Regions from separate parts of the Homo sapiens genome. Here region 2 is linked to region 1. The links come from fine-mapping of genetic effects on plasma protein levels. A gene starts in region 1. The other region holds a variant in brackets. All regions are shown on one strand. Distances are between the middles of the regions.

Region 1 (5,512 bases):
AACGAAACGGAGGCACGGAGATGTGACTTACCATTGTGGTTCTGCCAGATGGTTATCAAACCAAAAAGCACTGAAAGGGGGTCTGATGAATTGTCCAACCCTTAAGGTGAATGCTTTCTTTGCTGTAGGCTGCATAATCTGCCCATATATTGGAAGGTAAGCTGGGGGAGAGGGGCAGGGATGGACCTGTCTGGGGATAATTCCTTTGTTGCAGAGACTCGAGCTATAAATCTTTCTTGCTTTGAATCAAATCACAGGATTCCAGCAGATGGGGGGCAGTGTTTATGCTATTCCCGATGACAGCAGCCCAGGCGACCACACCTTCAGAAGGACAGGGATGGAGCTGGCCTTACTGAGTCCCTAGAGGGTGGTGTAGAATGCACCATAGCTACTGAACAGACCAATCTTGCCGCAACATGCCCCCCACAAGCCTTTTCTGGCCTCAATACATGCAAATCATCATCACCATCATGATCATCATCCTCTCCCCATCCCCCACTTAGCACTTTGCACTTTTCTAAGTGCTTCCCAACAGTGCTGCATACTATAATGCATACAGTGCTCAGATAGGCCAAGTTACTTGCTGGTTAGAGCAGGCACTGGGTTATGGTCATTTTTGTTTGCCACATACCAAACTTCTGCCATGTGCCAAACCCTGTGTTAGGCCAGAAGTGGTGCTTCATGGAAGAGACATGGTTTCTGGCAGTGCCCAGGTGCCAGGAAAAACAGTGCCATCCTTGAAGCCAGCAGTGAGCTGGAGTCAGAGCTTTGCCCACTGGTGACTTATGAACATTTCCTTTTAGGGCAGACAGGGAGGGTCTTGTCCCACAGTGCCTCCCACTCCTCAAAGGAAGGGTGGCTCAGCTTCCTTAAGCTCAGAAGCACTAGGGACTAACCCCTCTTTCCTGACACAGCCCAACGCCCTTCTGGGTGGTTCTAAGAGGCTTCCCAACAAAAGGTTCGTATGAAGGCCCACCCTGAAGTCCAGCTGTCCCCAGAGTAGGGCTAAGGAGCCACCATACTCTCGTGTCATCTCAACCCTGCATGTCGTGTGGCTCTTCAGTGATTGCCACTCTGAAAGCTGTTCTGACTGTTCCTCACACTGCAGCCCCTCTTCCAGGGACACACATTCTTCCCCCCGCCGGGACCTTCCCTTTCTAGTCAGGCTGGTGGAGTCTCCCGCCGGCCACAGGAGGATGCCCACGCCTGCCTGCTCCCTGAGTGCCAGCGCCTGCCCACTACCAAAGGTTTCCTGCGGTGCAGAGGAGAGACTGTACTGCCCTTCCATCTCCCCTGGCCCCTTAGAGTCCAGTCCCAAACTGCCGGCACCTGCTCACAGCAGAATCCCTACCCTGTCTGTGCTGTCCCCGCAGTCCTCCTGGCCCTAGGGTGATCACACCACCTCAGCTCTTCCTGCAGACATGTGCTCAGGTGGGCAAAAGAGAATGAGAAATGCACCTCTCCCGTGGGGCTGAGCTGACTCTGGCTGTTCCCTAGGGGCTTAAGAACACCTGTTCTGGTTGAGTTTGCAGCCATCGCCTGTCCCCCAAAAGGGAAAGAGTAACATTTCACCTTGAAAAGAAACAGGGAGGGGATGTTTCTGAGGTGCAGGTGTTTCATGAGAGACAGGTACATTTTCTAAGGTGTGTCTAAAATGCAGCCCAATCCTATTCTACGAGAGAGAAGTTCCCGTTTGAACAAGTTCCCGTTTGAACAAGAGGATTCGAGGGGGGTCTCACCATCGTAGCCACGCACTAAGAAGCGATTGTTTTAGGGACACGGAGGTAGGACCCCCACTCAGCCAGGTGACTCTGGGACTGTGGAAGGTCCACTTACGACTCTGTACCTGCCCCAGCACGGGCTCAAGGAGTTGAGCCTGCACACATTACTTAGAAAAAACCTCTGCAAACGGGTAAGTACATCGCCCGCGTGGGCCGTGGCTGGAGGCTTGTCACCTGCTTCAGGGACTTCCTCGGGAGCCTCTCGCCTGCCTCTTTGCCTGGAATTAACGAATACACACTACAGCCCCTCATTCCCTCCAACACGAAGGAAAGGTGTAATCAGATCCCGAGAGTCCCGCAGAAGCGTGGAGCCTCGCGGTGCGGTCTCCCTTTTCTTTCCCATGCAAACCCACTTAGCACCGGCGCGCCCCTGTTTGCCCGGGCAGAATCCACCGCCCACTCCTCCCGAGTGGAGAGTGGAGACGAATCTACGCCCAGGCCCTGCACCTGCCGCGCTGCGGAGTTTGGAGGGGGCGTGGATGGTGCAAGGTCAGGGCTCCGTGTGTGACCCCGGCGGTGATAGGGCTGCTCGGGGTCGGACCACGCGGCGCGCCGGGCTTCCCTGCAGCTCGGCCGGGCAGGGGGCACATGGGCACGGTGGGAGTCCCGGCGGAACCCAGGCCGGCCACTCACCATTCTGGGAGGGCGACGGCGACGGCGACGGCGACGACGGCAGCAGCGGCGGCGTTGACAACAGTAGCAGCAGCGCCGAGAGCGCCAGCGCGCAGCGCATCGTGTCGTCGCCTCTGGGCCGGGAGCAGGTGGCTGCGGTGCCGGCGGAGGATCCGCGCGTCCGGGCGGTAGGAGCGTGGGCGCCGCCCGGGGAGGCCTGTGGGTGGCTCCGGAGGCCAGGCTGTGGCCCGGGGCTCCCGAGTCGCGCTGCGGCGGCTCTTCCTCCCTGCCGCTGCAGCAGAGCCGGGCTGGGGCGCAGAGCCAGTGGCAGAGGAGCGGCGGCGGCGGCGGCTGCGTCCTGGGCGGCGTCTGCGCGGCTGCGGCCCCACTGGCGGCTGCGGCTACTCCTGGCCCGTCCCGTCAGCGCCGGCCCCCGCCCCCGCCCCCGCCCCTCCCCCTCCCCCAGGAGCCCGCCAGCGGCGGCGGCCGGGCCGGGCGGGGCCGGGGCCGGGGCTGGGCGGGCGCTGGGCCGTGAACAATGAGCAGAGGAGGAAACTCCGCCCTGGAGCGCGACGGGCGGGAGGGCCGGCGGCCTCCGCGCCTTGGGGGGCTGTGTGTGCGCGGGGGCCAGGGCGGGGGGCTCCTGCGGTGCAGCCGGGCCCCGTCCACAGGTGTCCCGAACAGGTGTGTCCCCCCGAGTGCTTCTAAGTGGGCCCGGCGGGATCCCCCAGCACACCGCCGGGGCCCTCGCACTACGAGCAAATCCGGAGCGGGCGGACCCCCAGCCTTGCGTGGTAACTGATAACCATTCACGGCCTCCCGGGCTGCTGCGCGTTCTGCAGCGACCCCGGAGAAGCTCATCTCCCACCTGCCAAGTGCAATTCACCTGCCTGTGGGGCCCCCATCCCGCACGGCTTCTGAGCGGGGTCTCTCTGCAGCTAGGTGTGCAGCGGGCAAGCTGGACTAATTCACTCCTTCACCTCTCCAAGGGTAGGTTCCTTACCTGTGAAATGGAGATGATGGTTAAAAAACAACAGCAACAACAATTTCAGGGATGAATGTGTGCCAGGCTTTACATATATTAATTCTTTTACTCTTCATGACAACCATATTTTTAGCCTCATTTTGCAGACAGGGCAATTGAGTCAAAAAGAGGTTAAGAAACTTCCTGAGGCCACATAACGGGTAAGTGGCAAACCTGCCTCTGAGAGAAGTTTGGAGAAATACCGTGCACCGTGCCTGGAATATAGTAATTGCTCTGCAAGGAGTGGTTATTACTCTTATTCCTGCTATATAAAGAACAGCTATAAAGATTAGGGCTTTTGGGTCAAAACAGGCTGGGGCTCAAAACCTAACTGTGCCAATCTATTAATTGTAAAACCCTAGGCAAGCTATTCTCAGTACCTCATTTCTTTTTATCTGTAAAATAGGGATAATAACACCTACCTCAGGGGGTTGTTGGGAAACTTAAATGTGATCTTACAAGATAATACTTAGCCTAGGGCCAGGAACACAAAAGTCTCAATGAATGAAGTAGTTCGCCCTCCAAGTGAGGATCAGAGATATTTGCACACTGGGGGTGGGAGTGGGTGTTGGAGAATTCCGTAAACTGAGTTTATCCGGTGAAAGAACAAAGAAGTTCCTTTCCCCTCCCCCGCTCCCCTCCTTTTTTCCACCCCCAAAGCTGCCTGGGAGACGCAGACCCCAGGCCCGCCTGAAGAGGAGGCACATCGGCGGAGCCGGGAAGCGGAGGGGGCGAGGGGTGATTAACCTTGGAACCCGGGTACGGCGTAAATTTGGCTCACGTGACTCCGGGGTTGCTAATCTGGAGTCTATCTGCCAGATGGGGCTGGGTGGAGGGGTTTTCTCCAGGATCTAGCCGCGTCCCGGGCACAGGGGACTCCGTGAGCCCCTCAAGTCGGCTGCAAGCAGGCGATGCCTGCAGGGCACTGCGTCCCTGGAGCCGCGAAGGAAGCGCTGGAGCCCTGGCTGGGGTTCCGTGGCAGCCGGCCTCAAGCTTGGGAAGGGCTGACGGGGTTGTTTTCATCAGGAAGTTTCTGCAGGATCGTTCTGGCCCCGTTTTCCACACCGCATATGGGAAAGACAGAGGGTGTTCCCTATGAATACTCTGGGATATTTGTGTGTGTGACTATCTTTGATGTTTTTTTAGTACTGTTCCCCTGATATCATGTCAACAAAAGGCTTGTTTCTCTTCTGAAACCAAGCAATATATATATATATTTTTTTTTACACTGGGATTTTAAAAAATGTGTATCGCACTCTGATTTAAACAGTGTTTTTGCACTCAATCATTCAATTTATCTAAAAACTCAGAAGCAATCATGTTAACTTTATAAAGAGAGAGCGTATATTTTGAAGCTTAGGGCATTTTAAATTCACATGATTTGGGATTGGTGCCATTACAAGATCATGCAAAATTAAAATGAGAGCAGACATCTGGGCTTAGAGAAGACATAGAAAAGTTACAATTGTGCTGGACTCTCCCCAGTATCCAACAGCCCCCCTCAACTTATGCACAACGTGGCTTTCTGGAATGAGGCTGGCTGGGTTTTGAGGTCACTGGTGGCCACTGAGATGAGCTACCCCCAGGTAACTGGCCTGTGCCTTTGGCCCCATTTAGCATTGTGCTCTAACTAGCAAGCTCGCCAGCCCAGAACACCTGAGCTTATATTTGAAACCCAAAGCACTTTATGGGTGCTGTTTTTGAAGCTTTTCATCAGGAAGTTTCTGCAGGATCATTCCTTCTGGGATTTGTTGCATTTTGGTTATTTGTATACATGCGTTAGCTCTCCTAGCAGACATTCAGCTTCTTTAACATGGCGTCTTTCTTATTCATCCTTTACTTACTCAGACCACCAAGAACAGCACATCACTTTTTTTTTTTTTTTTTTTTTTTTGAGACAGAGTCTTGCTCCTGTTGCCCAGGCTGCCTCCGCCTCCCAGGTTCAAGCAATTCTCCTGCCTCAGCCTCCTAAGTAGCTAGGATTACAGGCATCTGCCACCACACCCGGCTAATTTTGTATTTTTAGTAGAGACGGGGTTTCTCCATGTTGGTCAGGCTGGTCTCGAACTCCCGACCTCAGGTGATCTGCCCGCCT
Region 2 (4,276 bases), 50 kb before region 1:
GCCGCTGCTAGAGTGGGGAAGGTGACCGGTGAGAAGGGGGTTTCAGAGGGCTCTGAGCTTAATACAGCGCATGTACGTACCCCTCCCACTCAGGAGCCCCACTGTAGCTAAAGCAGGCCCTCATTGCTCGCCTGTGGGGCTGGCTGCTCCTGGTGGTCATTCTGGCTCTCAGCCTGCCCGGAACTAGTTGGGAACAAAGACTTGCCCCTCACCCTCACCCTGGTGGCAGAACCTGTGAAGTTAGTGGAGATGGACTTTGTTCTCCAGAGTCCTCTAAGCTCTCTCCTCCCCTTCATCCCTTCCCCCAAAACCTCCTCTCCAGGCACCTACCTCACCTATCATAATGAATGGGAAAAACACTATTAAAAAATGACCTCTCTCGGGCTGGGTGACTGAGCCCTCAAGCCTGGGCAGGATGGGTACGGTGTCTCTAGAATCATCCCTGCGGCAGACAGCAGCCATCTGGCAGAGGCGCTTTCTGTCCCTCTCAAACACAACCTTGAGTGTATGCTAGAATCACCTGGGGAGCTTTTAACAACTACACTGATGGACTCAGAGATTGTTTGAATTGGTGTGGGAGGCAGTCAGGCAAGGGAATTTTTCTAAAGTTCCCCACGGTGTGCAGGCAGGAGTGAGAACCACAGGGTCTGGGTGGCACCATCATGGCGAGAATTCTAGTAAGGTAGGCAGAAGAATTTTTGGTTAGACAGAACACCTAGGCCTGCTTCTATCAATGAATCCTCAGACCAGCTCTGCAAGGAGGTTATCCCTGCTGTGCAGATGAGGAACCTGATGCCCAAAGAGCTCATCTGACTGACTTCCTCAAGGTCAGGGCCAGGACTAACCAAGTCTCCCTGACTCCAGTCCAGGCGTGGTGACTCACACCTGTAATCCCAGCACTTTGGGAGGCTGAGGCAGGCGGATTGCTTGAGGTCAGGAGTTCGAGACTAGCCTGGCCAACATGGCGAAACCCCATCTCTAGTAAAAATACAAAAATTAGGCGGGCGTGGTGGTGGGCACCTGTAATCCCAGCTACTGGGGAGGCTGAGGCACAAGAATCACTTGAGGTTGCAGTGGGTGACACCAGCCTGGGTGACAGAGCAAGACCCTGTCTGAAAAAAATAATAATAATAAAATAAAAAATAAATAAGTCTTCCCGACTCCAAAGCCCACGCTCTGTCCTCTGCCACGCTGCCTCTGTAATGCTCTGTGGACTGAGGCGGCTGCCTATCAGGGGTGGCCTCTGCCTGTTAGAAAGGGTCCAGGGCCTGCTCCCTTTCCTCTTCTGCAACTCGGGAATCACGAGGGGAGGGTTCCTCTGGTGACCTGGGCTGCTTCCCCTGTGTGGCTGCAAACAGCTGCTTACCTGGTCCTTCCTCTGGGAGAGGCGCTGGTGGCAGCAGCCATAGAGGGCCGCCACGAGGAGCAGGAATGATGCCATGCAGACGATGGTGATGATGAGGGGCATGCTGAAGCGGTCCTCGGCCTCCTCCGGTGGCCCCTGGTCCCCTAGCTTCATGTCACTGACCCCTGCCTGCATGGGAAGTGGCAGAGAACAGGCTGGGGGCATCCTCTCTCCCTCAGCCCCCGGCTTCACTGTAGAGCCCCTCCGCTTGCAGTCTGCTAGGGTCCGTGCCGCCGCCCTCTTCTACATGCAGGCACATGACGGGGTTCCTCCCCACAGAGAGAGGGGAGTAACCAGACCTCCCACAAGGGGCTTCGGAGCCACTCTGTCCCCACACTTGGGGGGCCGCTTACCTCCTTTAGTTCATCCCATTTGTCCTTCAGCCGCTCGTACACATCCTTGGCAGGGAGCTTAGCTGTGGGAGAGGGAGACGATGCCCAATGGCCCAGCCCAGAGCGAGGCAGTGGGGGACGGGGACTGCGCCCCAAGAGAGGGACGCACCGTATCTCAGTCTCCTGAGTGTCTCTCGGGTGACCTGGGAGGGGGTGTGGCTTGACAGTTCTTAGGGAACTGAAGGGGCACCACTGTGACCCACCCTCCAATGTGGCTTCTGCATGCCCCCCATTCCCACCCATGCAGGCCCCAGCCCAGGCCCCCTTGCCCTCCACTCACTGTGAATAGTGATTTCTTTGACGACCACGGTCTGACTTCCTGGAACAGATGCCAGCCGTATGCCGCACTTATCTTGGGCCGGGTTGAAGGTGGCTTTGACTGCTCGGCATATCAGTGAGATCAATTTCTCATCCGAAGCGCCCCCTGCCTATGGTGGGGAGAGCGCAGGTGACTCCGCGGGGAGCGTGACAGCAGCCTAGGCCTGTGGGGCTGCCCTCCCAGCTAAGGTCGGGACAGTGCTGTTGCTGTGCTAGAACCTGCCTCCCTCTCTAGCCCCAGCTGGTGCTCCACGCAGGCCTGCCAGGAATCAAGGGTTGCATGCTGTTCTCCTGGGCCAGTTCCTGCCTCCTCTGTCTCGTTCCCATCAGCCCGTTCTCCGCACTGTGTTTATCTGGTCTACGCTTGCACCTTTCATTCCTTTCACCCTAGTGCCTCTTTTTTCCCTCCAAGCTGTTTGCGGATTGGGGGTTGTTTTCATCTCCCTCCCTAGAACGGGCTAGAGAGGGGGCACTGCACAGCAACCCTACCCCACAGCCCGCAGGGAGACTCCAATTCCCCCTAAACTCCCATTCACCAGCCTTTCATGCCCAGTTCGGAGAAATCAGGTGGGGAGGCTGCAGCTCTCAGCAGAAGGGTCTCTACCCCCAAAGCTGAAATACATGTGCCCTTGCCCTAGGCAGAGCCTCTGGCTCTGAAGCCACGGACAGGCTGACAGGGAAGGGGCTCCACTGAGTAGGGGAACAGGTGGGATCTTGAAGCTACCCCTAGGATATCTTGGAGGGGGTCTTATTTAGCTCTAAGAACAAAGATTGTGGCTGACGTGGCTTTAGAGCTGAGGATGAGGGGAGAAGTGTGGGCAGCATGTATCCAGTCCTGCCATGCCATCTAGGGGCACCCCTCCCTGGGGCTTCTCTGACCTGATTCTGGAATAAATGACTAAGACAAAGAAAAGGACTCTAGGGATAGCTTAGCACAGAACCCATACAAACCACCCCTAAGGTTTCTACCAGAATTTCCTTAGGCTTAGTAATTCCCCACCCTGACATCAGGAAGGGATCCAGGGTTTTCCATCTTCCTTTTCTAGCAAAGG[G/A]AAAAAAAAAAAAAGTGTCTCACAACAATCACACAGCCTACCAAGCTACATCCAAAAAGAGGGTCTGAGGAAGGGCTGGGCGGGCACCTGACTGTCCCCAGAGCCCATATCATGCAATGCCTGCCTTGTCCAATAAGCCCAGCCCTAGGAGAGCACTGCTCCCTTTTAAAACTCTGGTCTAGATGTAGGCTTTTGTAAAGTTCACTTGGAAAATGCCGGCATAATGGACACCCAAAAGAAAACAACTGCAGAAAATTCAGGCAGCATTAAAGTGTTGTAAGCCCAAATTCTCCATCCTATCTATAGACACCGTGTTCAGGTCTGTTCTAGTTCTAGTTCCTAGGGGGTGGCTGCAAAAAACCGGCACTGACCGGGAGAGGGCAGCAGTGAGCCAGCCATCTCCAGCACCCGCCGCGCTCGGCAGTTATTTACTGAGTGTGCACAGCGCACACTCCCCAGACCAAAGCCTTTGGACCCATGGAGACCGGTGGCCTGAAGGCTGCTCACACACTGCTACCTCCCTCACACAGGTGTGCTCACACGCACGCTCACCACCCAGACTGGAGAAATGCTGGCAGTGGCTCCTGCATTCCTGGGCCCTTTTCTCTCCCACCCATCCCATCAGCTCCTCAGGTTAGAGGGAGAATCTCCCAGCACTGTTCGTCCATCAAGGCTCTCAGATAGTCCACAGACCAGGAAATGTGAAGCCACAGACGATTAAAGCAGACAGACTACACCTCTCATTTTCTCTTGCTTTTCTTTTCTTTCTGTAAAAACAGGGTCTTCCTATGTTTCCCAGGCTGGTCTTGAACTTCTGGCCTCAAGCAAACTTCCTGCCTCAGCTTCTCAAAGTGTTGGGATTACAGGTGTAAGCCACCACACCTGGCCTCACCTCTCATTTTCAATTGAGACATCTGAAACCCAAAGAGATCAACTCACCAAAGTCACTCCCAGAGCTAGGGGCAAACAGGAACTAGGATCAGGGTCCCTCAACTCAGCATACTGGAAATAGTCACACAGTGAAAGCCGAGGAAACCGGGGGGTGGGAGGGGGGGGTCCAGTCCTGTGGGTGTGTCCTGACTTAGAGAAGTCTTAAACCTTGGTCTGTT

Alleles and levels. Positions count from the first base shown, and alleles are read on the strand shown. Strength reflects both the effect of a copy and how common the allele is.
In carriers of allele A in region 2, the plasma level of the protein whose gene starts at base 2,783 in region 1 tends to be higher than with G alone (weak association).

The links. PIP is the posterior inclusion probability: the model's chance that the variant is causal. Protein levels are from antibody-based Olink assays in UK Biobank. Linkage for the fine-mapping came from a reference panel and not from the study's own genotypes, which makes the PIPs less certain.
Region 2: its variant is fine-mapped to the plasma level of the PODXL protein (UK Biobank, PIP 0.98).

Annotation. Positions count from the first base shown.
Region 1 is chr7:131,553,846-131,559,357 of GRCh38, forward strand. It overlaps PODXL (podocalyxin like), which reads right to left and starts at 2,783. Exons shown (of 9, transcript NM_001018111.3): 1 at 2,415-2,783. The coding sequence starts at 2,514. RefSeq lists silencers at 2,404-2,913, 2,994-3,053, 3,084-3,203 and an enhancer at 3,171-3,718.
Region 2 is chr7:131,504,502-131,508,777 of GRCh38, forward strand. It overlaps PODXL (podocalyxin like), which reads right to left. Exons shown (of 9, transcript NM_001018111.3): 6 at 2,078-2,225; 7 at 1,759-1,820; 8 at 1,367-1,534; 9 at 1-7. Among named protein-coding and RNA genes, the nearest start is that of PODXL, 50 kb to the right of the region's middle. RefSeq lists an enhancer at 1,158-2,072 and a silencer at 3,613-3,672. The variant G/A (reference allele first, on the strand shown) is at 3,168.